Linked DNA regions of Homo sapiens: region 1 is linked to region 2. Evidence: fine-mapped expression QTL. A gene starts in region 2. The other region holds a variant in brackets. All regions are shown on one strand. Distances are between the middles of the regions. Region 1 holds the start of LOC124902914 (a long non-coding RNA gene). Region 2 holds the start of DNM1L (dynamin 1 like).

Region 1 (14,905 bases), 28 kb before region 2:
CTGTTTACTGAGGCAAAAAAAAAAAAAATCTGAAGTCAATCATGGTCTTCTACTTTCTGGACTGAGCATTTGGCAGAATGCAGTATCTTTTCCTGTATTTTGACATGAAATAGCACATGGCTTCTACAAGATAGTTTTAACTTGTTGGGGTCACCGGGAGTTATATGATGGTCAACCCCTTTTCCCAAAATTCATTGTGGTAGTTTTAGTGGAAAACGTAAATCAAGAAATCTCATATCATACTTTAATAAATAAATACCAAATACATAGTGACATATAGGTTTGGGAAGAAACTAGTCTGTGGGGACCATTATAAGAGAATCACATTATATATTACACAGTATATGGATATTGGAATGTATCACTTGTGGGGGGTTCTCTTCATTAGCAAAACAGTCATGTCTGTCTGTATATAAGACTTTTTTTTTTTTAACCAAACTAGCATTTCATTTTGTGAGTGACAATTGACATTTTAAAATAAGCATAGGCCGGGCATAGTGGCTCATGCCTGTAATCCCAGCCCTTGGGAGGCCGAGGTGGGCAGATCACTTCAGGTCAGGAGTTTGAGACCAGCCTGGCCAACATGGTGAAACCCTGTCTCTACTAAATAAAAATAAAACAAAATAAGTGTATCTGGGCCAGGCACGGTAGCCCATGCCTGTAATCCCAGCACTTTGGGAGGCCGAGGAGTTCGAGACCAGCCTGGCCAACATGGCAAAACCCTGTCTCTACAAAAATTAGCCAGGTGTGGTGGCACATGCCTGTAATCCCAGCTACTCGGGAGGTTGAGGCAGGAGAATTGCTTGAACCCGGGAGACAGAGGTTGCAGTGAGCCGAGATTGCACCACTGCACTCCGGCCTGGGTGACAGAGCAAGACTTCGACTCAAAAAATAAAATAAGCGTATCTGGATTTTTCTTTTGAATTCTTGACTGATAAGTTTGAGAATGTATGTTTTTGGAATTTTACAGTTGACTCAAGTGTGAAAGTATACACAAGTAATTTTTCTTTTCTAGCTATGTGAATGTAAAATACTTGCAGATAATGTATATATTGTGTAATATATGTATATTTGGTCATAAAAGCAGATAATTGGAAACATTGTAAAATTAAGCACTTTAATTCCTATTAAATATTAAACATTTGTATCTTGTAAATAAACACATCCTTAAATTAATTCCAAAGCTTTACATGTTATTTCAGCTCATGTTCAGTTCACAGTGATTTCAGTTCTGCTCAGGAAAGTTACTCCAGTAAGGTACTGATACTCCTACCTCCAACCTACCCTCTGCCAAAAAAAAAAAAAAAAAAGTGTAAGTCTTTCAAGAATAAAGCTTATGACAGACTCAAGGTTCTCCAAGTATAGAAACAGTGGCTTCTCTTTGTTATAACTCCAAGTCTAGATCTCCAACAACCGACAAAACAGTGCTGCTCCATACCCAAGGAAACGATTGTTTTGCTCCATAGTTTGTGGTGTTTGCCTACATTCTAGAGGCTTATCCAGTCGGCCCACAGTGTCTATGGGAGACTGGTTCCAGGACCACTCACAGGTACCCAAATCTGCTCATACTCAAGTCCCTGAGCTCTCTGGAACCCACAGATACTGAGTCAAACCTCCGTATTGGTGGGTTTTGCATCCTGATGGAATACCGTGTTTTCATCCACATTTGGTTGTAAATGTGGAATCCATCAATGCAGAGGGCTATTTATTGAAAAAAAGTCCACATATAAGGACCTGTGCTTCAATCCTGTGTTGTTCAAGGGTCAACTGTATAGTGAAATAAGCACGAAAAGAGAACTCAAAAGAACTGTTGAGGCCGGGTATGGTGGCTCACACCTGTAATCCCAGCACTTTAGGAGGCCGAGGCAGGCAGATCATGAGGTCAGGAGATTGAGACCATCCTGGCTAACACAGTGAAACCCTGTCCCTACTAAAAATACAAAAAATTAGCCGGGTGTGGTAGCGGGTGCCTGTAGTCCGAGCTACCCGAGTGGCTGAGACAGGAGAATGGCGTGAACCCGGGAGGCGGAGGTTGCAGTGAACTGAGATGGCGCCACTGCACTCCAGCCTGGGTGACAGAGTGAGATTCTGTCTCAAAAAAAAAAAAAAAGTCTTAGTCCTTGTCTTACTGGTCATATGACCTTAGACAATTTACCTGAATCCCAATAATGAATTCCTGTGGTCACTACAAGAAACATCGCACTCGGTGACTATGAAACGCTATACAAATAATATGTCATGGAACACTTCGGAGTTTCATACAGCTACTCAATTGGCTTTAGCCTTTTTAAAGCCCTGAAAAGGAATCCTCATGACTTCCACTGTGATTTCATAACTAAAACATTTCCAGAGATAACCCTTCGCAGAAGCCTATTAGCTTTTTTAGGACACGAAGAACTAATCAACAATTTTAAAATTGATGCTTTAAAGCAATTGGCATCAGCTGAAGGATTCTGTAAAATAAACATTGCCCTTGGCTCACAAAGGGACCCAAATGTGATTTGGGTCCACATTACATCAGAGTGGCATAATTCAAGGCTTCTCAAACTCTAATGTACACATGAATCACCTGGGGATCTTGTTAAACTGCAGACTGACATAGTGGCCTGCGATGCAGTTCTAACAAGCTCCCGAGGGGTGCTGCTGCTCCTCAAACCATCACTGGAGTACCAAGCTTATAGTGGGAAGGACTTAGTGTCCGAGACCATTGACTAGAAATCCCTGGCTCTACCACTTATGTTTGAGCCTTGAAGACTTGTGAGACTTACATGAGACAATCATATATTGTCTGGCCCATATGAGATATTCAGTTCATAATTGTTAATAGAGATCATTTTTGTTAATTCAAAAATTTGCAGCCCTGACTGCACATGTGAATCACCTGCAGAGTAGTTAGAGCCATTCCCTGGTCCCCATCCCCATCCCCCTCAAAAATTCTATTTATTTGTCTGCATTGGCCTCCGAGTAATAGTCGGTTCAAAAATTCCCCAGGTGATTCTGATGGAAAGCTTCATTTCAGAAGCACTGGTAGAATGTTTATTCAGTGCTTAGTTCTGTGCTAAGTACTGTATTTACATTATCACATAAAAGCCTCACAATAACATTCTAAGATTCAGATAAGAAAACAGATTTGGCCAGGCGTGGTGGCTCATGCCTGTAATCCCAGCACTTTGGGAGTCGGAGGTAGGTGGATCACTTGAGGTCAGGAGTTCAAAAACAGCCCGACCAACATGGTGAAACCCTGTCTCTACTAAAAATACAAAATTAGCTGGGCATGGTTGCGCACGCCTGTAATCCCAACTATTTGGGAGGCTGAGGCAGGAGAATTGTTTGAACCCGGGAGGTGGAGGTTGCAGTGAGCTGAGATAGTGCCATCGCACTCCAGCCTGGGCAACAAGGGTGAAACTCTGTCCCTACCTCCCCCTCTCCAAAAAAAAGAAAGAAAACAGATTTTAAAAAGCTAATAATTTGTCCCTCAGCTCTTGATGTCCTCTCTTCTACCCTTACCCATTTTAAATCCGATGTTCAGTCACTGATCACTCCCTCACATTCACTCACTTCCTTCGCCACGTCTAGCTTTGTCTCGCTTGGCAAAACCAAATCCCCAGTTTACTCAGTTCTGTTTTCATACTTGTACCCATGTGGCTGAACAAAGCAGATTGGTTTCACCTAAAATTTATTACTAGGTCATCACTACTTCCTCCTGAGACCTCCACTGTATCCCCAATCCTCCATCCCAATAGATGACCTTCCTTCCCACTTTAGTAAAATACAAGCAATCAGCAGGGGACAGCCTCCCACAACCATATCTAAGCCACCTATTACCTCTTGAGACCATATACTCTCTCTCCCTGCCTATCCATGTCCTGTCCTAATTGGGTCCCTCACCTGTGCACAGTATCCAATTTCCCATTCGCCTGCCATTCTCCCTTTCTCATGTAATGTCAGATTTCTTCTTGAATCTTATTAGCGAAAACCTGCTATAATTCTTCCCAACGTAAGCCTCTTCACTCCACTTTTCCTCCCATTAGCAGCAAC[A/C]CTCCTTGAAAGAGTTTTCTATACTTACTGTCTCCAATTCCTCTCTTCCCGTTCTTTACTGAACGGATTCCAGTCAGCATTTTGCACCCACCATTTCACTGAAACTGCTCTTATATCAAGGTTACCAATAACTTGTATGCTGCTAAATTCAATAGTCAAGTTCTCAGTCCTCATCTTAGTAGCATTTGACATACTTGGTCATGCTCTCCTTAATTCACTTTCTTCCCTTGGCTTGTAGAACCCCAAACCCTTGGATTTTTTTTCTATTTATGTATTTACTTTAGGGATGGGGAGGTCTCTCCATGCAGACCAGACTGGTCTTGAACTCCTGGACTCAAGCGATCCTCCCATCTCAGCCTCCCAAAGTGCTGGGATTACAGGTGTGAGCCATAGCGCCCAGCCCCAAACCCCTGATGTTCTTCTCTTGAACCCTTTCTTGGTCTTCTTTGCTGTTTTTCACACCTTTCAGGGGTGTCTCAGGCCTAAGTATGTTGTGACTTATCTCCTTTATCTGCACTCATTCCACTAGTATTCACACATACTTTCATACTTTCATGCTGTCAACTCCGAACTTTATTTTATTTATTTTTTGAGACGGAGTCTCGCTCTGTCGTCAGGGTGGAGTACAGTAGTGTGATCTTGGCTCACTGCAACCTCTGTCTCCCAGGTTCAAGCGATTCTCCTGACTCAGCCTCCTGAGTAGCTAGGACCACAGGCACATGCCACCAAGCCCAGCTAATTTTGGTATTTTTAGTAGAAACGGGGTTTCACCATGTTGGCCAGAATGGTCTCGATCTCTTGACCTCGTGATCCACCTGCCTCGGCCTCCTAAAGTGCTGGGATTACAGGTGTGAGCCACCGCTCCTGGCCCCAATTTTATTTTTACTTATTTATTTTTGAGACAGAGCCTTGCTTTGTCGCTGAGGCTAGAATCAGTGGCATGATCACAGCTCACTGCAACCTCTGCTTCCCAGGCTCAAGCAATCCTCCCCGACTCCAGCCTGAGTGACAGAGCAAGACCCTGTGTCAAAAAGAAAAGAAAAAAAAAAAGGAAAAAGAGAAAAAACAGGACTTCAAAATATAATGGTGAAAATCTTAGTCAACCTTGGCACAGTGGATTCTTGTTTTTAAAAAATCAGTCTCAGAGCTAGGCATCATGCCTGTAATTCACCTGGGAGGCTGAGACAGGAAGATCACTTGAACCCAGAGTTCGAGACCAGCTTGGGCAACATAGCAAGACCTGCAGCTTAAAAAAAATAAAATTAGGCTGGGCGTGGTGGCTCACGCCTGTAATCCCAGCACTTTGGGAGGCCGAGGCAGGCGGATCACGAGGTCAGGAGATCAAGACCATCCTGGCTAACACGGTGAAACCCTGTCTCTACTAAAAATACAAAAAAATTAGCTGGGTGTGGTGGCGGGTGCCTGTAGTCCCAGCTACTCAGGAGGCTGAGGCAGGAGAATGGCGTGAACCTGGAAGGTGCAGCTTGCAGTGAGCCGCGATCACGCCACTGCACTCCAGCCTGGGTGACAGAGCGAGACTCCATCTCAATAATAATAATAATAATTTAAAAAATAAAAAATAAAAAAATTTTACAAGAAAAAATATATATATAGAGAGAGAGAGACATACAGTCTCAGCCCACTACCACCACCATTATCACAGCACCTGGACTGTGAGGAGATTAGAGGCAGCTGATGACTGTCCCAGAAGGAGCCGAAAGTGCTGAAGGACAGACATCCTGAGGAAATGGGGCTGGCAGAGTGGACCTGGCAAATGGTTTGGATAATGAGCGCCTAGGCTACCATCACTTTCTTACAGAGGAAGTGATTCATGCACTGTTTTGTCCTGCAGGTAAGTAAAAACAGAAAACCAGTTTGCTTACTCTCTTAGTAAAGGAAATGCTCTGCTTTTATAGAATAAGATTAGGGCCTCATAGCCCACTGTGGCATTTTCACAAAAATTGCTATTTTTAGATGATCACTTAAATATGTCATTATCATACACCAAACAAAAATAATTACGGTGCAAAAAATTAACTTAAAAAATTGTTTCCACATAGAATCATGTTATGTTTAAAAGTGGGAAAAATGTATGTCATCTGAAAGATCATCTTGTGGTTTTTTTTACTATCTGCTGAATTTGTGTGTATGTCTATGTATGTGCTTGAAGACTGGAGAACAGGAAGGCACAGAATGAATACAGGGTAAATGAACCAAAGGATCCAGGCCCACAGTTATAAAAAAAATAGGAGGAAGAACTCTCAATAAAAAAGAATTATTTGCCACTTTGAGAGGACAAGGTGGGAGAATCACTTGAGGCCAGGAGTTAGAGACCAGACTGGGCAAGATAGTGAGGACCCTCCTATCTTTAAAAAAAGTAGTAATAATTAGGTGGGCATGGTGGCATGAGCCTGTAGTCCCAGCTACTGAGAAGGCTGAGGCAGGAGGATCGCTTGAGCCCAGGGGTTTGAGGTCGCAGTGAGCTATGATTGCACCATTGTATTCCAGCCTGGGTGACAGAGTGAAACCCTGTCTCAAAAAAAAAAAAAAGAAAGAAAGAAAGAAAGAAAGAAATGAAAAATTATTTGCTAAAAAAAGTCATGATGCTTTCGTGAGTATACCTTTTTGCAGAGTTTTGACTTTTGAACCATCTCAGTGTTTTATAAACAGACACACACACACACACACACCCCTAATGGTGAACACTCCCCTCCCCCATGGAGTACAAATATAAACAAGTGAACATATCCATATATCAAATGGTACCAAATGAAAAACATAACCACACTGAAGAGAAAAAAGAACTAACTCAAACTTTTGCATACAGTATGTGGACTCAGAGTGCAAACAAATATTGAACTCTAGATCCCTGGCTTGTTTTTCCCAGTGGTAGAGCTTAGTAGTTCTAACATGTGTTTATTTGTTTTGCTGAGTTCTAGAACTCAGTGAATGTGATAGTTCATATTGAGTGTCAACTTGATTGGATTGAAGGATGCAAAGTATTGTTCCTGGGTGTGTCCGTGAGGGTGCTGCGAAAGGAGAGTAACATTTGAGTCGGTGGACTGGGAGAGGCAGACCCACCCTCAATCTGGGTGGGCACTGCCTAATCAGCTGCCAGCGCAGCTAGAATAAACCAGGCAGAAGATGGAAGAGCAGACTTGCTGAGTCTTCTGGCCTTTGTCTTTCTCCCGTGCTAGATGCGTCCTGCCCTTGAACAACAGACTCCAAGTTTTTCAGCTTTTGGACTCTTGGACTACACCATTGGTTTGCCAGGGGTTCTCAGGCCTTTGGCCACAGACTGAAGGCTGCGCTGTCGGCTCCCCTACTTCTGAGGTTTTGGGACTCAGACTGGCTTCCTTACCCCTCAGCTTGCAGACGGCCTATTGTGGGACCTCACCTTGTGATCGTGTGCATCAATACTCCTTAATAAACTCCCCTTCATATATACATCTATCCTATTAGCTCTGTCCCTCTAGAGAACCCTGACTAATCCAGTAAATAAATATGCTGAGGATAATGGGAGCCAAGTTTCCTACTGTCAGAGAAAGCAGATATAGATGTGGAAGGGGGGACATAATAAATCCTATGTTATTGGAATGGAAAATAGGTATTAATGGTTTAGCTAAGTATAAATATAGATATAGTACATATAATACCTATGTGGGGGGTTATATAAATGTACATATACACATATTTTCTAGCTGTCTGCTGTGAGGGTCTAGAAGTAATACCCCAATTTTGTTTTTGTATTTTGTTTTCTAAACACCATTTTCCACTAAAAAGAACCAGCATTCCTTGAAGAAATGGTTGATTCAAGGGCTTGGGCAGGAAAAATTCACAATAAGCCTGGAATATTATATTGTACCAGAAAGTAAGAAAGGGCCCAAAGAATGATGGGGACATGTCAGAAGAACTAGGAGGCAGCTTGAAGGGTCTCCCACTGGCAAAATCTGGGACAGTTAAACATAAAAATTAACAAAAAAAATTTAAAATGATGGCAATGGATTATAAAATCCATTGAATAAAGGAGGAACACAGGAATCCAAACATATGAAAGAATGAATAAATAAATGATAAGAAAAAGTGCTTATAGTAGGATGTCAACAAGTAAGTGTAGAAGAAATGATAAAATGAAAACATTAGCAATTGACAAAACAAAGGAATCATTCAGAATCCTCAGTGGACATTGATGGGTAAAAAATTCTTGACCAGGATAACTACATAATCTCAAAATATGTCTCCATAAAATTGCTTTTTTGTTTTGTTTTGAGATGGAGTCTTGCTCTGTCCCCAGGCTGGAGTGCAGTGGCAGGATCTCAGCTCACTGCCACCTCCACCTCCGGAGTTCAAGCAATTCTTGTGCCTCAGCCTCCCAAGTAGTTGGGACTACAGGCGTGAGCCACCACGTCCAGCTAATTTTTGTGTTTTTAGTAGGGACATGGTTTCACCATCTTGGCCAGATTGTTCTGGAACTCCTGGCCTCAAGTGATCCGCCCACCTCAGCCTCCCAAAGTGCTGGGATTACATGCTGAGCCACCGCGCCTGGCCCATAAAATTCTTATTAATTACAAAAATAAAAATAGTAACTTTGCAGTAGAAAAACTTGGTGGACAGCATCTTAACCAAGTTAACATTACCAGTGAGGACAAACTGGTCTCATGTATCTCTTGATATGAAGCACTGAGAGGACACATCACATCTGTTGTTTTCCTGCTAAAAGTGAAATCTATCTGAGTATTTGGGGTTACATGACAAACTAAATACATTTTTAAAAGTGTAATCTAATCATGAGGAAATAACAGACAAACCCAAACTCAGGAACATTCTATAGAATACCTGGCCTATATTTGGCAGGGCACGGTGGCTTACACCTGTAATCCCAGTACTTCGGAAGGCCGAGGCAGGCGGATCAGGAGGTCAGGAGATCAAGATTATCCTGGCTAACACGGTGAAACCCTGTTTCTACTAAAAATACAAAAAATTAGCCGGGCTTGGTGGCGGGCGCCTGTAGTCCCAGCTACTCGGGAAGCTGAGGCAGAATGACATGAACCTGGGAGGCAGAGCTGGCAATGAGCCAAGATTGCACCACTGCACTCCAGCCTGGGCGACAGAGCGAGACTCTGTCTCAAAAAAAAAAAAAAAAAAAATTACCTGGCCTGTATTCTTCAAAAATGTTAAATTCAGCTGGGCGCAGTGGCTCACGCCTGTAATCCCAGCACTTTGAGAGGCCAAGACGGGTGGATCACAAGGTCAGGAGTTCGAGACCAGCCTGGCCAATATGGTGAAAGCCCATCTCCTCTAAAAATACAAAAATTAGCTGGGCTTGGTGGCGGGCACCTGTAGTCCCAACTACTCGGGAGCTGAGGCATGAAAATCACTTGGGAAGCGGAGGTTGCAGTGAGCCAAGATCATGCCATTGCACTCCAGCCTGGGTGACAGAGTGAGACTCCGTCTCAAAAAAAAAAAAAAAGTTAAGCTCATGAAAGACAAAGACAGACTAAAGAACTGTTCCAGGTTAAAGGATAGAAACACATGATAAGTAAATGCAATGTGCGCTGGACTTAGGCCACAATTTATTCTTTCTTTTTTTTGGCTATAAAGGATATTATTGAGATAACCGTTAAATGAATAACATCTGTAGATTAGATCATCATACTGTAGCTGCTAATTTTTCTGTTTTGACCATTGCACTGTGGTTATGTAAGAAAATATCCATGTCCTTGAAAATATACACTGAAGTATTTGAGGAAAAAGACACATCGTGTCTGTAACTTATACTCAAATGGTTCAGAGATGAGAGAGAGGGAGAAAGAATGATAGAGCAGAAGCAATGTGATAAAAATGTTAAAAGAATCTAGGTGAAGGGTAAACTAGAGTTCTTTTAAAATACTTATGACTTTTCTGTAAGTCTGAATATATTTCAAATAAATTGAAGTTTTGGAAGAAATGTAAATTAAAATGAGATATTACTACACACCTGTTAGAATGGTCAACATCGAGACACTGACCACAAATGCTGACAAGGATGTGGAGCAACTGGAACTCTCGCTCATGGTAGGTGGGAAGGCAAAAGGGTACAGCCACTTTATAGTTTGACAGTTTTTCTTGCAAAACTAAACTTATACGAACCAGCAGCACACTCCTTGGTATTTACCTAAATGAGTTGAAAACTTATGTCCACACACAAACCTGCTACAGAGCAGCTTTATTCACAATTGCCAACACTTGGAAACAACCAAGACGTCCTTCAGTAGGTGAACAGATCGACAAATGTGACAATGGAGTATTATGCAGCACTAAAAAGAAATTAGCTATCAGGCTATGAAAAGACATAGAGGGACCTTAAGGGCATTCACCAAATGAAAGAAGTCAACTAAAAAGGCTACATATTGGCTGGGTGCAGTGGCTCTTATGCCTGTAATCCAAGCACTTTCGGAGGCAGAGGCAGGCAGATCACTTGAGGCCAGGAGTTCGAGACCAACCTGGCCAACATGGTGAAACCCCATCTCTACTACAAACACAAAAATTAGCTGGGTGTGGTGACACGTGCCTGTAGTCCCAGCTACTTGGGAGGCTGAGGCATGAGAATCGCCTGAACTCAGGAGGTGGAGGTTGCATTGAGCCAAGATCGTGCCATTGCACTCCAGCCTGGGGACACAGCAAGACTCCATCTCAAAAAGAAAAAAATATATATATATGGAGACATATTTTGAGATTATGTAGATATCCTAGTCAAGAATTTTTTACCCATCAATGTCCATTGATGATTCTGAATGATTCCTTTGTTTTGTCAATTGCTGATGTTTTCATTTCATCATTTCTTCTACACTTATTTGTTGGCATCCTACTATAAGCATTTTTTCTTATCATTTATTTATTTATTCATTCATTCATTCATTCATTCATTCATATGTTTGGATTCCTGTGTTCCTATTTTATTCAATGGATTGTATAATCCGTTGCCATTATTTTAAATTTTATGTTAATTTTTATGTTTAACTGTCCCAGATTTTGCCAGTGGGAGACCCTTCGAGCTGCCTCCTGGTTCTTCTGACATGTCACTTGAGCCTAAGAGTTTGAGACCAGTCTGAGCAACATAGTGATACCCCATCTCTAAAAACAAAAACAAAACTACATATCATATGATTCCAACTATGTATATGACATTCTGAAAAAGGTAAAACTTTGACACATTAAAAAGATCAGTGGTGGCTCACGCTTGTAATTCCAGCACATTGGGAGGCCAAGGTGGGCAGATCACTTGAACCCAGGAGTTTGAGACCAGTCTGGGCAACATAGTGAGATCCTGTCTCTACAAAAGATACAAAATTAGCCAGGCATGGTGGCAGGTAGTCCTAGCTACTCAGGATGCTGAGGTACGGGAATCACTTGAACCCTGGAGGCGGAGGTTTCAGTGAGAGGAGATCACACCACTGCACTCCATCCTGGGTGACAGAATGAGACTCTGTCTCAAAAAAAAGAAAAAAAGAAAAGAAAAAACAAAACAAAACAAAACCCATGTATGAGATTAGAGCCCCAAGTCCAGAGAGGAGCAGTTTCTCAAACTCTTGCTTCAAACAGCCAAAGTAAAGATTAATGTCTATTAAATTAAAAAAAAAAAAAAAAAAAAGCCGGGCATGGTGGCTCATGCCTGTAATCCTAGCACTTTGGGAGGCCGAGGCGGGAGGATCACAAGGTCAGGAGTTCAAGACCAGCCTGGCCAACATGGTGAAACCCATCTCTACTGAAAATACAAAAATTAGCCAGGCATGGTGGCGGGCACCTGTAATCCCAGCTACTCGGGAGGCTGAGGCAGGAGAATCGCTTGAACCCGGGAGGCCAAGGCTTCAGTGAGCTGAGATCACTCCACTGCACTCCAGCCTGGGCAACAGAGCAAGACTCTGTCTCAAAATAAAATAAAATAAAAGCCTAGCTGTTTTTTTTCTTAATTTTTCTTCTCTGTCTTTTCCATTTTTTCCATCTAAAAATTTAAAGTTTAAGAAGAAATACATTGTTATTAAGGAACCACCAATATCCACTTTATCCATCTAACAAAATGATAGCACCAGCCCACTAGTAGCAGTTGGCCACCTAGGATAGTTTGCCAGTAGTGGTAACCAAGGGCCAGGTCCACCCTTCCTCTCAGCTTTGGTGTATTATCTGGCAGTGGAGCTGGGCTCCACACAGAAGAGAGATCCCCAGCTCCCACACTTCGCATTACTATTTGTTACCTGAGCCCCAGTTATACTGTGTGTGTTGCTTAGGTCTTTGGGCTCAACAGATTCCTTGGACAACATAACAACCAAACACAACACATAATTCCTTCAGCTTCTGCCAACAACTCACTGTTTATGGGGCTGTGATGTGGGCCATGGGGCCAGCCTGAGATCAGGAACAGATGGGACATGTAGGCTCCCAGGTAAAGTAATATCTAGGCACCCTTTAAAATCAATATTCTTGAAATAGTTGCTCAACATGAATTTATTTTATTGGGTTTTTTTATTTGTTTTTGAGACAGGGTCTCTGTCACCCAGTGGCACAAACGGCTCACTGCAGCCTCAACCTTCTGGGCTCAAGTGATCCTCCTACCTTGGCCTCCCAAAGTGCTGGGATTACAGGCATGAGCCACTGCACCTGGCCTCAACATGTATTTAGAGCACGGAGGGATGAACAAAATAGTCAGACTTCTGGGGGAGAGCTGGCAATCTTTCCATTGTATCTGCGCTCTTCAGTTTTGGGGAGAGAGTTGTGTATATTTACTACTCATCAAGTAAAAGGACGTGGAATCAGCTGGAACAGGTTTCACTGGAAAGCTGTTTAGGGATCATTTATTGTTGCTCAAGAGTGCCCTCTAAGGGTTTCAAACTATGATAAGTGACTAACCACATTCTGTGCTCTGCAGGAGTTCCGGCAAACACAACTTTCTCCATATCACTATGGTTTCAGAGATGCCTAAGTGCTCATTGATACTTTAGCATCCCTTACAGGATGGCAACACCGGCAGCTCCCCGGCCAGCCCCCCTTATCCTGCTCTGCTGGGAAGAACAGTCTACAATGCGGCCGCCCCATGGTCAAGTTGCCCTTGCTCCTTGATTCTGTTATTCTCCTTTTCTTAAAAAAAAAAAAAAAAAAAAAAAAAAATCAAAGCAAATTTCTCCAACCTTATCCACAATAGAACTCACGACCGAATCCAAGGGATAGACTACTGTCACAGCTCAATCTTGACCTGGGATCCCCCATATATAGGTGTTATATAGGTGTCTCTCTCTCTCTCTTTTTTTTTTTTTTTTTTTTTTTTGAGACAGAGTCTCGCTCTGTAGCCCAGGCTGGAGTGCAGTGGCGCGATCTCGGCCCACTGTAAGCTCCGCCTCCCGGGTTCAAGCGATTCTCCTGCCTCAGCCTCCCTAGTAGCTGGGACTACAGGCGCCCTCCACCACGCCTCGCTAATTTTTGTATTTTTAGTAGAGACGGGGTTTCACCGTTTTAGCCAGGACGGTCTCGATCTGATCTCGTGATCTGCCCGCCTCGGCCTCCCAAAGTGCTGGGATTACAGGCGTGAGCCACCGCGCCCGGCTAGGTGTCTCTTTATAAAATAGAGATCTGGCCGGGCGCGGTGGCTCACGCCTGTAATCTCAGCACTTTGGGAGGCCTAAGGCAGGTCAGGAGGTCAGGAGTTCAAGACCAGCCTGGCCAAGATGGTGAAACCCCGTCTCTACTAAAAATACAAAAAATTAGCCGGGCATGGTGGCGGGCGCCTGTAATCCCAGCTACTCGGGAGGCTGAGGCAGAGAACTGCTTAAACCTGAAGGGGCGGAGGTGGCAGTGAGCCGAGATCGCGCCATTGTACTCCCGACTGGACGACAAAGCAAGACTCCGTCTCAAAAAAATAAAATAAAATAGAGATCCGGGCCGGGCGCCATAGCTCACGCCTGTAATCCCAGCAGTTTGGGACGCCAAGGCGGGTGCATCACCTGAGGTCAGGAGTTCAAGACCAGCCTGGCCAACAAGGTGAAACCCTGTCTCTACTAAAAATATAAAAATTAGCCAGGCATGGTGGTGGGCACCTGTAATCCCAGCTACTCCAGAGGCTGAGGCACAAGAATCACTTGAACCCGGGAGGCAGAGGCTGCAGTGAACGGAGATTGTGCCACTGCCCTGCCTGGGCAACAAAGAGAGACTCCGTCTCAAAAAATAATAATAATAAAATAAAATAGAGATCCACTGTTTGTAGTCTGAGGTCCTATTAGTTTTATTTAAATTGTACCCTAAGCACTTCCCCTCCTTCCAAAACAGTTTTCACAGTAACAGCCAAAACCTGAGGGTTTAGTATCTGCTAGCCACTATTCTAGGAACTTTATAGAAATAATTTCATTCATATTCCATCACAGTTTTTCAGTGTAAGCATTGTAAATAATGCATCAAGAAACATCTTTGACTTGTTACTGAGAGTTCCATCTGTGATAAAGGGCAGATGTCATAGAAAACCCCTTTGGCAGGTGATTCAACTCGAAGGAGAGGGTGGGAGGAAGCAACATCTGAGAATCATGTGAGCTGTGTTTCGGAAATACACACATCTGTCCCACATCCTGCTGCCCTGTGGATTTGATATGCCTGAGGCTGCATGCTGGCAGGTGGGCTTGGGTGTATAATTTTCTCCCAAGTGATTCTCACTCATTCCATTTTTTTGCCTGTCCCTCATCCCCATTTTTAAAAATTATTTATTTATTTATTTATTTATTTATTTATTTATTTATTATTGAGATGAGTCTTGCTGTGTCACCAAGGCTGAGTGGCATGATCTCGGCTCACTGCAACCTCTGCCTCCCGGATTCAAGCAATTCTCCTGCCTCAGCCTCCCGAGTAGCTG
Region 2 (15,399 bases):
ATCCCCACTAACCGCTATGATTTGAAGGTGCAGATACCGGCATCTTGGCTGTGATTGATGATCAAAATGTTGGCATAAAATGATATTGGACACATGCGATAAAAACAGTCTGACCTTTTCCAAGATCGATTAATTTCCAGTTATTAATTTAATCCAAAATAAACTTCCTCTAATTCGGGATTTTAAGTTAGAACAAAGCCAGGCTACTCCCTAGCTAAGTAACTTGGCATCTATTCTAATGAGGAGTCCTATGCCAAGCCAGACTCATATGTGTTGGTGAGATTTGATTGCCAGTCCTGGTTGCAATTATATCAATTCAGAGCTGCTTAAATCCTTGTTATTCCAGATTTTCCAAATAAAAAAGAAAAGAAAACCCCATATCCAGTAGACTAATATTATGTAACACGCTTCATACGAGGTAGTGGGGGAACCCAGCTAAATAAGATAATCACTTCTGCCCTTCGTGAGCTCACTATTGGTGAAGGGGGAGGGCATGTTAGTGCCATATCCACGGTTCCTCCCTACTCTCCAGCAAAATATACTGCCTGGCTAAGATCCGTATGCCTAACAAGTACTTCATCAATATGTGTTGAATTAATGAAGAAAGGAATAAATACACGAGGCAGAATGTGTAGCGGTTGAGAGTTTGCTGCCGGGCATGGTGGCTCACACCTGTAATCCCAGCACTTTGGGAGTCCGAGGCGGGTGGATCACCTGAGGTCAGGAGTTTAAGACCAGCCTGACCAATATGGTGAAACCCAGTCTCTACTAAAAATACAAAAATTAGCCTGGCGAGGCGGTGTGCGCTTGTAGTTCCAGCTACTGGGGAGGCTGAGACAGGAGAATTGCTTGAACCTGGGAGGCAGAGGTTGCAGTGAGTTGAGATCGCACCACTGTGGCGACAGAGTAAGACTGTTTCAAAAAAAAGAAAAAAAAGGGGGTTTGCCAAAAAGCCCCTTTTCATCCCATCTCTGCCACATACTAGCTGTGTAAATTTACCACTTCACTTCAATCCCTGGAGCCTCCGTTTCTACATCTCTAAACCTACTTCACGAGGCTCTGATAAAATGCTTAGTATAGTGCCTCACATACAATAAGCACTTAAATAATAGTTCAATAATATTGTGTGAAAAGGGCAACAAGGAAAAATGGAGAAATTCATATGGTTAACTATGGGGATTAGAATTCTGATGTTATGTGCTGTACAGCACATGTACATTTAAAAATATGGGAAAGTTGGCCAGGCGCAGTGGCTCATGCCTGTAATCCCAGCACTTTGGGAGGCTGAGGCGGGCAGATCACGAGGTCAGGAGATCAAGACCATCCTGGCTAACATGGTGAAACCCCATCGCTACTAAAAATACAAAAAATTAGCCGGGTGTGGCGGTGGGCGCCTGTAGTCCCAGTTATTCGGGAGGCTGAGGTAGGAGAATGGCGTGAACCCAGGAGGCGGAGCTTGCAGTGAGCTGAGATTGCACCACTGCACTCCAGCCTGGGTGATAGAGCAAGACTCTGTCTCAAAAAAAAAAAAAAATATATATATATATGTATATATATGGGTAAGTTACTGAATTTGGGGAAGTTCTTCAAGGTGAATAAAGAAGTTTATTCTTGCAAACCAATTTATTCCATGAGATAGGAAACATGATCTTTGGAGACATTGACTCACATGCTTACAGTTCTATAACCAGAGAGAGAAAATATTTTTGTTCAAATTCAGGTTAGGAAATTCTCAGAGAAGGATTCTAAATGGTCCTGCAGGTCCATCCCTAGACCAATCACCTTAACCAGGTGCAGTAGGCCCCTCCAATAAGTCCATGTCCTAATCCCTGGAGCCTGTGAACTTTATGTCTCAGGAGAGACTCTGTAGATGTGATTAAGGGTACAGGCCTTGAGACAGGGATATTATCCTGGGTTGTCCAGGTTGGCCAATCTAATGATGGGCCCTTAAACACAGAGAAGCTTTTCTGGGGGTCAGAGGCCTGATGACAGCAGAAGAGTTAAAGAGATGCGACATTGCTGGCTTTGAAGAGGTTGGAAGGAGGTAACCAGCAAGGAATGCAGGGGGCCCCTAACAAAGGCAAGGAGGTGAATTCCCTGCTAGAGGCTTTAGGAGGGTTTGCAGCCCTGGTGACACCTTGATTTTAGTCCAGTGAGACCTGTGTGAGACTACTGAACTATAGAACTGTAAAACAATACTTTTTTTTTTTTTTTGACATGGAGTCTCACTGTGTTGCCCAGGCTGGAGTGCAGTGGCGTGATCTTGGCTCACTGCAAGCTCTGCCTCCCAGGTTCACGCCATTCTCCTGCCTCGGCCTCCCGGGTAGCTGGGACTACAGGTACCCGCCACCACGCCCGGTTAATTTTTTGTATTTTTACTAGAGACAGGGCTTCACCATGTTAGCCAGGATGGTCTCAATCTCCTGAACTCGTGATCCGCCCGCCTCGGCCTCCCAAAGTGCTGGGATTACAGAAGTGAGCCATTGCGCCTGGCCACATTTTTGTTGTTTTAAGCCACTAAAATTGTGGTAATTTGTTAAGGCAGCAATAGGGAACTAATATACTAGAGAAGCAAGGCAGAAACCAGGTTCCTAGGTTTCAGTTCCTCCCCAGTTCTCTCTGCCTCATCTGCTGTGAGACAGCTTGCTGAATGAGATCCCCTACACCCTCCCCCACAGCACACTCACCTCATTCCACAGGAGTAAACTGCGTGAGAGAATGAAATAGACGATGTAGTGATAAGATGTAGAGCTCTGATTCTGCCTGAGCTCCTAGTTCCAGTCATTTTTTTTTTTGAGGTGGAGTGTCACTGTGTCACCCAGGCTGGAATGCGGTGACGTGATTTTGGCTCACTGAAACTTCCGCCTCCCGGGTTCAAGCAATTCTCCTGCCTCAGCCTCCCGAGTGGCTGGGATTACAGGCTCTCACCACCACCCCCAGCTAATTTTTGTGTTTTTAGTAGAGACGAGGTTTCACCATGTTGGCCAGGCTGGTCTTGAACTCCTGACCCCAACTGATCCACCCATCTCGGCCTCCCAAAGTGCTTGGATTACAGGCTAGAGCCACTGCGCCCAGACATTCAGTCATTTTTGAGGCAAGTTAGCTCAGAATTAAATTTCTGTCCTTACAATTAGCTATCCTGCCTAAATCATAAAGCTATGGTGAGAGAGGGATGGTTGCAGGAGAAGAGGTGTTTTTTGTTGTTGTTGTTTTTTTTTTTTGAGATAGAGTCTCACTCTGTTGCCCAGGCTGTAGTGCAGTGGCGCGATCTTGGCTTGCTGCAACCTCTGCCTCCCAGGTTCAAACAATTCTCCTGCCTCAGCCTCCCCAGTAGCTAGGACTACAGGCGCGTGCCAGCACGCCTGGCTAATTTTTTGTATTTTTAGTAGAGACGGGGTTTCACCGTGTTAGCCAGGATGGTCTCCATCTCCTGACCTCGTGATCCACCCACTTCGGCCTCCCAAAGTGCTGGGATTACAGGTGTGAGGCACCGCACCTGGCCGAGAAGAGGTTTTTTTAAAGGCCTTTTGATATCCGATAATGGTTTAATGTGATTCCCACAGGAAGCCACTGAAGAACACATTATTCTTAGATGCACAAAGACTCTTTTTTGTGGGAAATCCATTTAGCCACTTATTAGTTAAATTGATTTCCCACAAACAAGAGTGTTCTGAACTTAAAACATGAAAGCCGAAATTGGTTTTTTTTCTTCTTTTTTTTTTTTTTTAGTTGGAGTTTTGCTCTTGCCGCCCAGGCTGGAGTGCAGTGGCGCGATCTCGGCTCACTGCAACCTCTGCCTCCCGGGTTCAAGCGATTCTCCTGCCTCAGCCTCCCGAGTAGCTGGGATTACAGGCACGCGCCACACCAGGCTAATTTTTTTTTTGTATTCTTAGTAGAGATGGGGTTTCACCATGTTTGTCAGGCTGGTCTTGAACTCCTGACCTCAGGTGACCCGCCCACCTCGGCCTTCCAAAGTGCTGGGATTACAGGCGTGAGCCACCGGGCCTGGCTCTTTTTTTTTTTTTTTTTTTTTGAGACGGAGTTTTGCTCCTGTTGCCAAGGCTGGAATGCAATGGTGCAATCTCGGCTCACCGCAACCTCTGCCTCCCGGGTTCAAGCAATTCTCCTGCCTCAGCCTCCCGAGTAGCTGGGATTACAGGCGTGCACCATCACGCCCAGCTAATTTTTGTATTTTTAGTAGAGATGGGGTTTCTCCATGTTGGTCAGGCTGGTCTTGAACTCCCGACATCAGGTGATATGCCCACCTTGGCCTCCTGAAGTACTGGGATTACAGGCATGAGCCACCGTGCCCGGCCTTCTGTTTTCTTTAGAAGAAAACAAAAGCTCCATCAACAGAGGGGTGAGAAGCAAAGTGGGTAATATCTGACTATTATGTAATATTATCTTTGGTAGAAAGTCAAGAGACTTGGAATAAAACTGTTTTTTGGAGTTCTGAAATTTTTGTCTTATTTTATCTCTGAAAAATTTTTTTTTTGAAAATAATCAAAGAGGAGATGTTCACAAAACCTGTCAAGATGCCAAAACACCACTAATGGATCTTTAGGTCTTGGCTTACTTCATCCATTTGTTCACAGATATTTATTAAGCACCTGCCATTTGTCCTGCTGAACAAATCAAGCATGTTCCCCGCAGCCATTGTGTACAGCTAAGCAGGTGAATGGCACCCACTGGAGTTGCGTAGTGCACAACTTCCACTACTGCTGGTGGTTCTTGTCCTCATGGAGATTAAATTTAGTAACTTCTAGGAAGTCTTTCTCGAATCTCTATCCTCTTGCTCAGACTGGAAAAAGTGCTCTTATTATGTTTTCTTTTCTCTTTTCTCTTTTTTTTTTTTTGACACAGGGCCTCACTCTGTCACTTAGGCTGGAGTGCGGTGGCACGATCACAGTTCACTGCAGTCCCCACCTCCCAAGCTTAGGTGATCCTCCTACTGCAGCCTCCCAAGTAGTTGGGGCCACAGGTATGCACCACCACGACAGGCAAGCTAATTTTTTTGTATTTTTTGTAGAGACTGGGTTTTGCCGTGTTGCCCAGGCTGGCCTTGAACTCCTGACCTCAAGTGATCTGCCCGTCTCCTGCCTCAGCCTCCTGAGTAGCTGGGATTACAGGAATGCACCACCACGCCCGGTTAATTTTTGTATTTTTAGTAGAGACGGGGTTTCTCCATGTTGGTCAGGCTGGTCTTGAACTCCTGACCTCAAGTGATCCGCCTGCCTTGGCCTCCCAAAGTGCTGGAATTACAGGCGTGAGCCACGGTGCCTGGCCTCTCCTCACCTGCTTTAATTCTTTACTCAAATGTCACCTTTTTACTTTGAGGTTTACTTTTACCTTTGGAGGTTTGGAGTAGAGGAGGGATACTATCTGTCTAAAAAGAAAAACAACATTTAGAAATATAACAGTATGGGCCGGGCATGGTGGCTCAGGCCTGTAATCCCAGGACTGTGGGAGGCCAAGATGGGCGGATCACTTGAGGTCAGGAGTTCGAGACCAGCCTGGCTAACATGGTGAAACCCCGCCCCCCACCCGTCTCTACTAAAAATACAAAAATTTTCCCAGGGTGGTGGCGGGTGCCTGTAATAACAGCTACTTGGGGGGCTGAGGCAGGAGAATCACTTCAGCCTGGGAGGAGGAGGCTGCAGTGAGCCGAGATTGCGCCACTGCATTCCAGCCTGGGCGACAGAGTCAGACTCTGTCTCAAAAAAAAAAAAGAACGGTATGAGCAAAGAGTGAGTAAGGCAGTTATCAGATGTCTACTTTGCCAGGAATCAGGCTACAGCAAATAAAGGTTTATACATAATATTGATAATAAATGCCCAGCTCTTCCCCTGTAAAACTCCAATACTCTAAGATTTTTTTCATGAACACCGCCCCCCGCTGCTCCGACCCCTGCTTTTTTATTTATTTATTTATTTATTTGGTAGAGATGAGGTCTCACTATGTTGACCAGGCTGGTCTCGAACTCCCAGCTCAAGCGATCCTCCTGCTTCTGCTTCCTAAAGTGCTGGGATTACACCGCGCTCGGTCCTGAACACACATTTTGTTTGTTTGTTTGTTTGTTTACAAAACCCCTGGAGAACCCGCGTATTCTAACCTGGGCTGGTTTTTGTATTTTTGCAAAATAACACCCCACACATTCTCGTATCAGCGTGCAGATTTTTTTGCACCCAGTTTGGTTGTTTGCGGCCATAAGCTTTTCTTTAAGCCTTTCCAACCCGTCCTTCTAGAGAAAGTGTCTTCATAAGGAAGTCACACTGCTCACGCCTGTAATCCCAACACTTTGGGAGGCCGAGGCGGGTGGATCACTAGGTCCGGAGATCGAGACCATCCTGGAAAACACAGTGAAACCCCGTCTCTACTAAAAATACAAAAAATTAGCCGGGCGTAGTGGTGGGTGCCTGTAGTCCCAGCTACTCCGAAGGCTGAGGCAGGAGAATGGCGTGAACCCGGGAGGCGGAATTTGCAGTGGGCCGAGATCGCGCCACTGCACTCCAGCCTGGGCGACAGAGTGAGACTCCGTCTCAAAAAAAAAAAAAAAATAAATAAATAAAAAATAAATAAAAGGAAGTGACACTGGATAATTAAGAGACACACCATTGCGCCTTTAACACATATTCACACCCAGCACTGTCACATCCATCGTGCCTTGAGGACAGGCATAAATTTACGGCCTTCCTCCTGCGCTCCCGGCCTGCTCCTAGCCTTTGACTAGAGCCTGCGCAGCATCCCAGTCCCAGGCTAGGGCCCACCGGTGCCGCGCAGCCTCCTGGAAGCTGTGGGGAGTAGCGTTCCTCCGCTCCAGAACTACAACTCCCAGCAGGCCTTGCTCCTCTCCACCTCCCTCGCAGCGCATGGCCTGCCGGGAGGGGGCAGGTAGCCGGCGGGCCCGGTCCAATGGGTGCCGGCTTCCGAGGAGAGGGCGGAGGAGAGGAGGAAGGAGGCGAACTGTGGGCCCCGGCCCCATTCATTGCCGTGGCCGGCGGGCACTGGGGCCCCGTGTTTTCAGAGTCATGGAGGCGCTAATTCCTGTCATAAACAAGCTCCAGGACGTCTTCAACACGGTGGGCGCCGACATCATCCAGCTGCCTCAAATCGTCGTAGTGGGAACGCAGGTGAGAGCAGCAGGCGGCGTTCGCTCGGGCCAGACCCCGGCCGCAGGCCTGGTCGGTGCTGCGGCAGTGCCCACTCCCGCGCCAGCGCCCACTCCCGCGCCAGCCTTTGGGGCCTGTGGGAGGAGGGCCTTGCTGGGGGCCCCAGGGCTCTCCGGGCTCTGCCGCACCCGCCCTCCCGGGGCAGCGTTGCATCAAGGCGGAGAATCCGGGGCCCGGCCAGGGGCGGAGCCGGCGCGGCGGGCCTGGCTAGCCCGGCGGGTCCCGGGGACAGGAGAGGGAAGGATGGGGCCGGCGGGCGGAACTGGAGTCCGCTGGGACCGGGCGCGGCCTCGTCCGCGTGCCGCTGCCTCCAAGGGCACCTGGGGGACGCGCGGGGCACTCGGGTCTCGCTGGGCTCGGTGGGCTGGCTGTTCCCATCACTGTTGGCTTTCGTGAGACGGGTGTTTTATTTCCCTCCTTGCCTTGCCCAGGGACTGCGGAGTTAGTTTTGGAATCGCTCTGTTGAGGCTGAGAGACGCTACGGTGCGTGAGCGCCAGTGTTTTCCTGCAGTATAATTCCACCAGGTTTCGAGAACGCCGAAGCAGCATTTTAAAAAAAGAAAAACAAAACGTGTATCTAGAGTTCTGCGGGTGTTGGGAAGGAATATCCGATTTTTCTGCGTAGGCTGTGCTTTTTGTCTTCCACAGTTTTGTGATCGTGACCTAAATTGGGCATCAGTTTCTCTGGTCTTCTCATAGCTAACTCATTTTTTTTTGAATGCAGAAATGTTGGCAAAATAACTGTTATTTCTAGAGTGACAGAGGAGAAGTATAATTTTCCTTTTCTCTGCTACTTCGATTAGAGTTCAGAGAAACGGATTTTAGAAATTAGTATATTGATATTAAGTGCTTTCATTTCTTAATAGTATCTTTTCTATTGAGAAGGAGCGGTTTCCCCATCATTTTCCAGGAGGTACATAGTATAGGGTATAAGTGCTATCAGAAGGAACTTACTGTTCAAAGTATTAGTGGCTATCCAAACACTGGAAACTATAGACACCCTGTACTCGTTTGTTTGTTTGTTTGTTTTTTTGGCTTTTAAATAGTTGAAGCAATAGAAATTGTTTTAGAAACACATTTCCTTGGTCTGCGATAGGATTGGGAAAGATTCTGCTCAATCTTGCCTACGTATTCTAGTATTTGTAACAATATTTGTAATGTTTGGAGACTCAGAAGCATCAAACAAATTACGAGGATTATTTTTTATTGAACATAATTTTGTTCAGTCTGGGACATATAGTAAGTGCTCTGTAAATATTTTGAGTAAATATTGCTCACTCTAACCACAATGTTTTAAAACACTGGGACTTTTATCATCAAAACTAACCTGTTTTTGTAAAAAGTTAGAGATAATATAAATTAAGTCTTTGATAGTAAGTGATTCAGAAGTGTCTTCTAGCTGCACACTAGAAACTTTCCACATACTTTTAAAAGAGAGTCTCAGTGCTTTTTAAGCATGAGGAAGTAAAAGAATTAGGGATATAGTGTGTCAGCATAAATAGTTTAAAATCAATAAGTTGTTTTTTTCTTTTTACACAAAATAGAGTTTATTTTGGTCAGTAAACCTGTTGGCAAAATACAGAGTGGCAGGAGAGAAAAGTAAAGATCCCATCCTTCTGAAAGCCATTAACATGTGCAAAAACCATCCTAGTACTGACAGTTATATGCTATATTTGCATGTTGGTGTTTGAAATTTCTCAAGAGGTCAGTTTTTCTACTTGATTTAATGAGGGTTATTTCCATCTAAGTTCTTATTAGCTGATAATCAGTCTTTTACTCAAGTACAGAAGAAATACAGAATAGAAATTATCCGAGGTAGGCAGATCACTTGATTCCAGGAGTTCAAGACCAGCCTGGGCAACGTGGGGAAACTCCATCTTTACGAAAAATACGAAAATTAGCTGGGCATGGTGGTGCGAACCTGTAGTCCCAGCTACTCTGCAGGCTGAGGTGGGAGGATCACCTGAGCCTGGGAGGTTGAGGCTGTGGTGCGTGCAGGAGTGCATGTCACTGCACCCCAGCAGAAAGAGAGAGAATAGAAACTATTTTCTCCCCACACCGCCCCCCCCGCCCCTATTTTCTCCCCACACCGCCCCCCCGCCCCCGCCTTTTTTGTAGTGTGTTGGGGAAACAAGAATCTCTTCTTGGTTTGAATACTAGTATACCATTACTTTGTGATGTCTGCCATTTTTACTCTTTGGTGTTGTGTAACATATATGTATACCTCACATTTATATTTAATGAAGTAATTGTAGTGAGTGAGTTCCAGACATATAAGTGTTCTGTACTTAGTTCTGCCTAGTATACCTATCGGCAGTAATTGTGTCTTCAGAATACAGGTATAAATTAGCCAGGTGCTATGGTGTGTAGTGTGTGCCGGTAGTCCCAGCTACTTGGGAAGATTGCCTGAGTCCAGGAGTTTGAGGCTGCAGTGAGCTATGATTCTGCGATGGCACTCCAGCCTGGGCGACAGAGTGAGACCCTGATTCTTCCAAAAAAAAATTAAAAAACAACTTCAAGTGTAGTCTCTATCCTACATATTATCCATACCTTAAATGGCTTCAGTTTCTATCTTGTTGAACTTTTTGGAACAGTGATTCTCAGACTTGAGTGTGTATTAAGAATCACTTTGGTTTTTTTTTTTTGAGACCGAGTTTCGCTCTTGTTGCCCAGGCTAGAGTGCAGTGCCATGATCTTGGTTCACTGCAACCTCTGCCTCCCGGCTTCAAGTGATTCTCCTGCCTCAGCCTCCCACATAGCTGGGATTACAGGCATGCACCACCACGCCCGGCTAATTTTGTATTTTTAGTAGAGACAGAGTTTCTCCATGTTGGTCAGGCTGGTATCCAACTCCCGACCTCAGGTGATCCACCCGTCTCGGCCTCCCAAAGTGCTGGGATTACAGGTGTGAACCACCCCGCCTGGCCTAAGAATCACTTTGAAACTAAGTTTCCTGGATCCTGTCTCCAGAGATTTTGATTTTATAAGCCTGGGTTGGGTGAGGGACCATAGGTGATTCTGATACAGATGGTTCCTAGATCCTAATTTGAAAAACATATTAGTGAATCATTGGATTTTAAAATGCATGATACTGGAAAAAGCAGGAAAATTAGGGGAGGTTGAATCTATGGCATACTACCATCCAGTACCATGCTGACTTTGGTGGCATTCTTGCTTTAATATATCACTTCCCAGGCAACCATTGCTGACCCCTAAATGTTTTAAACTTTGGTTTTATGAAATGCCCAAGTAACACTCATTTGGGGGCTAGGGACTTGGAGGAGTGGAGGTGAGGGAATCCTGTTTACAGCTATCAGTCATTCACATGTTTTATGTGTTAGCTAAATAAATTGCTTTTATTTTTTCTAGTAGAGACCATCTGTGTGAAATGAACAGACACAGTGGGGAGAGAGAGAAGGCTGATGATACTTTTAGACCATGGTGTAACTTTGCAAGTAGAGGAGATAAGACTTAAAACAACTTTTGTGACTCAACTTGGGAAATTTAATCCTATTTCTTAAATTAAGAATTGGAAAGGGGAGCCCTCCAGGTATGTAATCTAAACTACCACCCAATATAGGTATCCGAATACAGATGACATTAACCTGAGACTCTGGCTTAGTGTTCCTAGTAATGTACTTTACACTTTTCCTTTTATTTCAGTGATTTCAGCATTCTATCTTCAGTAATTCAGACAAATGTAAAAGGAAAAACAATTTGGATTTTTTATTTTTATTTTTTTAGGGTCTGGCTCTTTCACCCAGGCTGGAGTGCAGTGGCATAATCCATAGCTCACTGTAACCTCAAATTCCTGGGCTCAAGCAGTCCTCTTGCCTCAGCCTCCTGAGTAGCTGGGACTACAGGCACGCATCTGGCTAATTTTTTTTTTTAAATTTAAAATCGCTGCCTTACTATGTTGCCAAGGCTGGTCTCAAACTCCTGGGCTCAAATGATCCTCTTGCCTTGGCCTCCCAAAGTGCTAGGAGTATAGGTGTGAGCCACTGCACCTAGCCTAAAAATAATTTGGATTTTATTTTATTTTATTATTTATTTTTTTAGAGATGGAGTCTTGCTCTGTTGTCCAGGCTGGAGTGCAGTGGTGCGATCTCAACTCACTGCAACCTCCGCTTCCCGAGTTCAAGTGATTCTCCTGCCTCAGCCTCCTGAGTAGCTGGGATTACAGGTGCATGCCACCACGCCCAGCTAATTTTTGTATTTTTAGTAGAGATGGGGTTTCACTGTGTTGGTCAGGCTGGTCTCGAACTCCTGACCTCATGATCCACTTGCCTTGGCCTCCCAAAGTGCTGGAATTACAGACATGAGCCACTGTGCTCGGCCTAATTTTTGTATTTTTAGTAGAGACAGCATTTTACAACGTTGGCCAGACTGGTCTCAAACTCCTGACCTCAAATGATCTGCCTGCCTCAGCCTCCTGCTGGGATAACAGGTATGAGCCACCATGCCCGGCCAGTAATTTGGATTTTAATTTCTAATTTGCAAATCAACTTTTAAAAATTTAACATTAAAAATACTGAAATATTCATGTAACACAAAATTCACCCTTATAAAGTATACACAACTCAGCAGCGTTTAGTATGTTCACAAAGTTGTACCACCATAGTGTAATTCCAAAATATTTTCATTACCTGAAAAAGAAAACTCCTGCCCATAAGCAGTCACCCCCGTTTTGTCCTCCCCCAGCTTCTGACAGGTTTTGATTTTATAAGCCCCACGTGGGTGAGGGTCCATCGGTGACTCTGATACAGATGGTTCCTAGATCCTAATTTGAAAAATATATTAGTGAATCATTGGATTTTAAAATGCATGATACTGGAAAAAGCAGGTATCACTGGCAACCACTAATCTACTTTTTGTCTGTATGGATTTGCCTATTTGGGATATTTCACATTAGTGGAATCCTATAATATGTGATTTGATCTTTTGTGCCAGGCATCTGTTGCTCAACATAATTCTTTTTTTTTTTCTTTTTTGAGACAGAGTTTTGCTCTGTTGCTCAGGCTGGAGTGCAATGGCACAATCTCAGCTCACTGCAACCCTTCACCTTCCGGGTTCAGGTGATTCTTCTGCCTCAGCCCGGATTACAGGCGCGTGCTACCGCACCCAGCTAATTTTTTTGTATTTTTAGTAGAGACGAGGTTTTGCCATGTTGGCCAGGCTGGTCTCGAACTCCTGACCTCAAGTGATCTGCCTGCCTCAGCTTCCCAAAGTGCTGGGATTATAGGCATGAGCCACTCAACATAATGTTTTTTAGGTTCATCCATTATGTAGCATGGCAGAATAATAAATATTACATTGTATAGATACAGCACAGTTTATTCATCAATTGATGAATTTTTGGGTTGTTTCTATTTTTTGGCTATTATGAATAAATAATGCTCTGCGAACATTCGTTTACAAGTTTTTGTGTGAATGTGTATTTTTTTTTTTTTTTTGAGATGGAGTCTCGCTCTGTCACACAGGCTGGAATGCAGTGGCGTGATCTTGGCTCACCGCAAGCTCCGCCTCCCGGGTTTACGCCGTTCTCCTGCCTCAGCCTCCCGAGTAGCTGGGACTGCAGGTGCCCGCTACCACGCCCAGCTAATTTTTTGTTTTTAGTAGAGACAGGGTTTCACCGTGTTAGCCAGGATGGTCTCGATCTCCTCACCTCGTGATCCACCCGCCTCGGCCTCCCAAAGTGCTGGGATTACAGGCGTGAGCCACCGCGCCCGGTCAGTGAATGTGTATTTTTGATTCTCTTGGGTATATATCTAAGCGTAGACTTGCTGATTCATATGATAATTCTTACGTTTAACTTTCTGAAAAACTACCAAAGTGTTTTCCATAGTGGCTGCACCTTTTTTTTTTTTTTTTTTTGAGACAGGGTCTCACTTTCTCGCCCAGACTGGAGTGCTGTGGCGCTATCTTGGCTTACCGCAACCTCTGCCTCCCAGGCTCAAGGCGTTCTCCTGCTTCAGCATCCTGAGTAGCTGGGATTACAGGTGCCCGCCACTACTGCCCGGCTACTTTTTGTATTTTTAGTAGAGGCGAGGGTTTCCTTATATTGGTCAGGCTGGTCTCGAACTCCTGACCTCAAATGATCCACCCACCTCGGCCTCCCAAAGTGCTGGGATTACAGGCGTGAGCTGCTGCGCCCAGCCGTGGCTGCACCATTTCACATCCCCTCCAGGGTTCAGGTTTCTGCACATCCTTATCAACACTTGTTGTTATCTTTTTTTTTTAAGCGCTAAATCATTCTGGAATTCTTTATTTGAAAAACAGCACTTTTTGACACCTATGCCATTTCCTTCTCTTATGGACAACTTTTTTCATAGTTTGATGTCCCTCTCTCTTTTTTTTCTCCATGAGCACTGCTGTCTACATTTTAGCATTTATTGACTATAATTTAATTCCTGCTTATGCATTGTTTTCTTGTGTTCTTAGATAAATTTATGTTTTTCTCTTTTTTTGTATAGATTATGAGCTGCTGCTTTTTTTTAACTTAACAAAATTGAGGTGAAATTTGCAGAACATAAAATTAGCCTTTTTTTTTTTTTTTTTTTTTTGAGATGGAGTTTTGCTCTTGTTGCCCAGGCTGGAGTGCAATGGCGCGATCTCGGCTCACAGCAACCTCCACCTCCCGGGTTCAAGTGATTCTCCTGCCTCAGCCTCTCAAGTAGCTGGGATTACAAGCATGTGCCATGCCTGGCTAATTTTGTATTTTTAGTAGAGACAGGGTTTCTCCATGTTGGTCAGGCTAGTCTCAAACTCATGACCTCAGGTGATCCGTCCACCTCGACCTCCCAAAGTGCTGGGATTACAGGTGTGAGCCACTGTGCCCAGCCAAAATTAGCCCTTTTATAAAATGTATAATTCAGTGTCATTTAGTGCATTCATAATGACATCTCTGTCTAGGTCCAAAACAATTTCATCACGAAAGAAAACTACTATTGAGCTGTCACTCCCTCTTCTTTCTTTTCCATTTAATGGCTGAGTAATATTCTGTTATATGTATAAACCACATTGGTTTATTCAATCACCTATTGATGAGCAATTGGGTTGTTTCTGCCTTTTAGCTGTTGTGAATAGTGCTGCTGTGAATATTGGTGTACAAGTATTTGAGTACCTGTTATCAGTTATTTTGGTATATACCTAGGAGTAAAATTACTGGGTTCTATGGTAATTTTGTTTAACTTTTTGAGCAACCACTTTTCCACAGCAGCTACACCATTTTAAAATTCCCACCAGCAATGTTTGAAGGGTGCAGTTTTTCTGTATCTTTGTCAACATTTGTTATTATCTGTTTTTGATTATAGTCATCCTAATGGGTGTGAAGTTTTGTTTTGCATTTCCCTAATGACTAATGGTGTTGAACATCTTTTCATGTGTTTGTTGGGGTTGTCTTATTGTTGAGGTTGTAAGAGTTCTTTTTTTTCTTTTTTTTTTTTTTTTTTTGAGATGGAGTCTCGCTCTGTTGCCCAGGTGGCCAGGCTGGTCTTGAACTCCTGACCTCAGGTGATCCGCCTGCCTTGGCCTCCCAAAGTGCTGGCATTATAGGCATGAGCCACCACACCCGGCCTTGTCTTTTTGCTTCCTTGTTAGTGTCCTTCAATACACAAAAGGTTTTACTTTTGGTTAAGGCTAATTTATCTTTTTTTTTCCTTTTATTGCTTTATGGTGTCATATCTAAGGCATTGACAAATCCAAAGCCGTGAAGATTTTTTTTTATTTTTTAATGTTTTTTCCCCTAATTATTTTATAGTTTTGGCTTGTATATTTAGGCTTTTGATCCATTTTGAGTACATCTTGGTATGGTATGAGGTAGGGGTTCATTTCATTTTTTTTGCACGTGCTTCTCCAGTTGACCTAGTACCATTTGTTGGAGAGACTGTTCTTTCCCCATTGAATAGTCTTGGCATTGTTGAAAATCAGTTGAGCAAAGATTTTGTTGTTGTTGTTGAGACAGGGTCTCACTCTGTCACCCAGGCTGGAGTGCAATGATGCAGTCTTGGGTCACTACAGCCTCCACCTCCTGAGTTCAAGCGATTCTTCTGCCTCATCCTCCCAAGTAGCTGAGACTACAGTCACCTGCCATCACGCCGGGCTATTTTTTTTGGTATTTTTTTTTAGTAGATACGGGGTTTTGCCATGTTGGCCAGGCTGGTCTTGAACTCCTGACCTCAGGTGATCCATCCACCTCGGCCTCCCAAAGTGCTGGGAATACAGGCATGAG

The links. PIP is the estimated chance that this variant, and not a neighbour inherited with it, causes the effect. A credible set is the group of variants that fine-mapping cannot tell apart.
Region 1: its variant is the best candidate, but not a certain one, in a credible set for the expression of DNM1L in cerebellum (GTEx, PIP 0.79).

What each region holds. Positions count from the first base shown.
Region 1 is chr12:32,644,875-32,659,779 of GRCh38, forward strand. FGD4 (FYVE, RhoGEF and PH domain containing 4) reads left to right here. Exons shown (of 17, transcript NM_001370298.3): 17 at 1-1,176. It overlaps LOC124902914 (a long non-coding RNA gene), which reads left to right and starts at 5,624. Exons shown (of 2, transcript XR_007063270.1): 1 at 5,624-5,890; 2 at 7,236-7,485. The variant A/C (reference allele first, on the strand shown) is at 4,039.
Region 2 is chr12:32,672,336-32,687,734 of GRCh38, forward strand. It overlaps DNM1L (dynamin 1 like), which reads left to right and starts at 6,966. Exons shown (of 20, transcript NM_012062.5): 1 at 6,966-7,130. The coding sequence starts at 7,029. RefSeq lists an enhancer at 1,859-3,058 and a silencer at 7,114-7,523.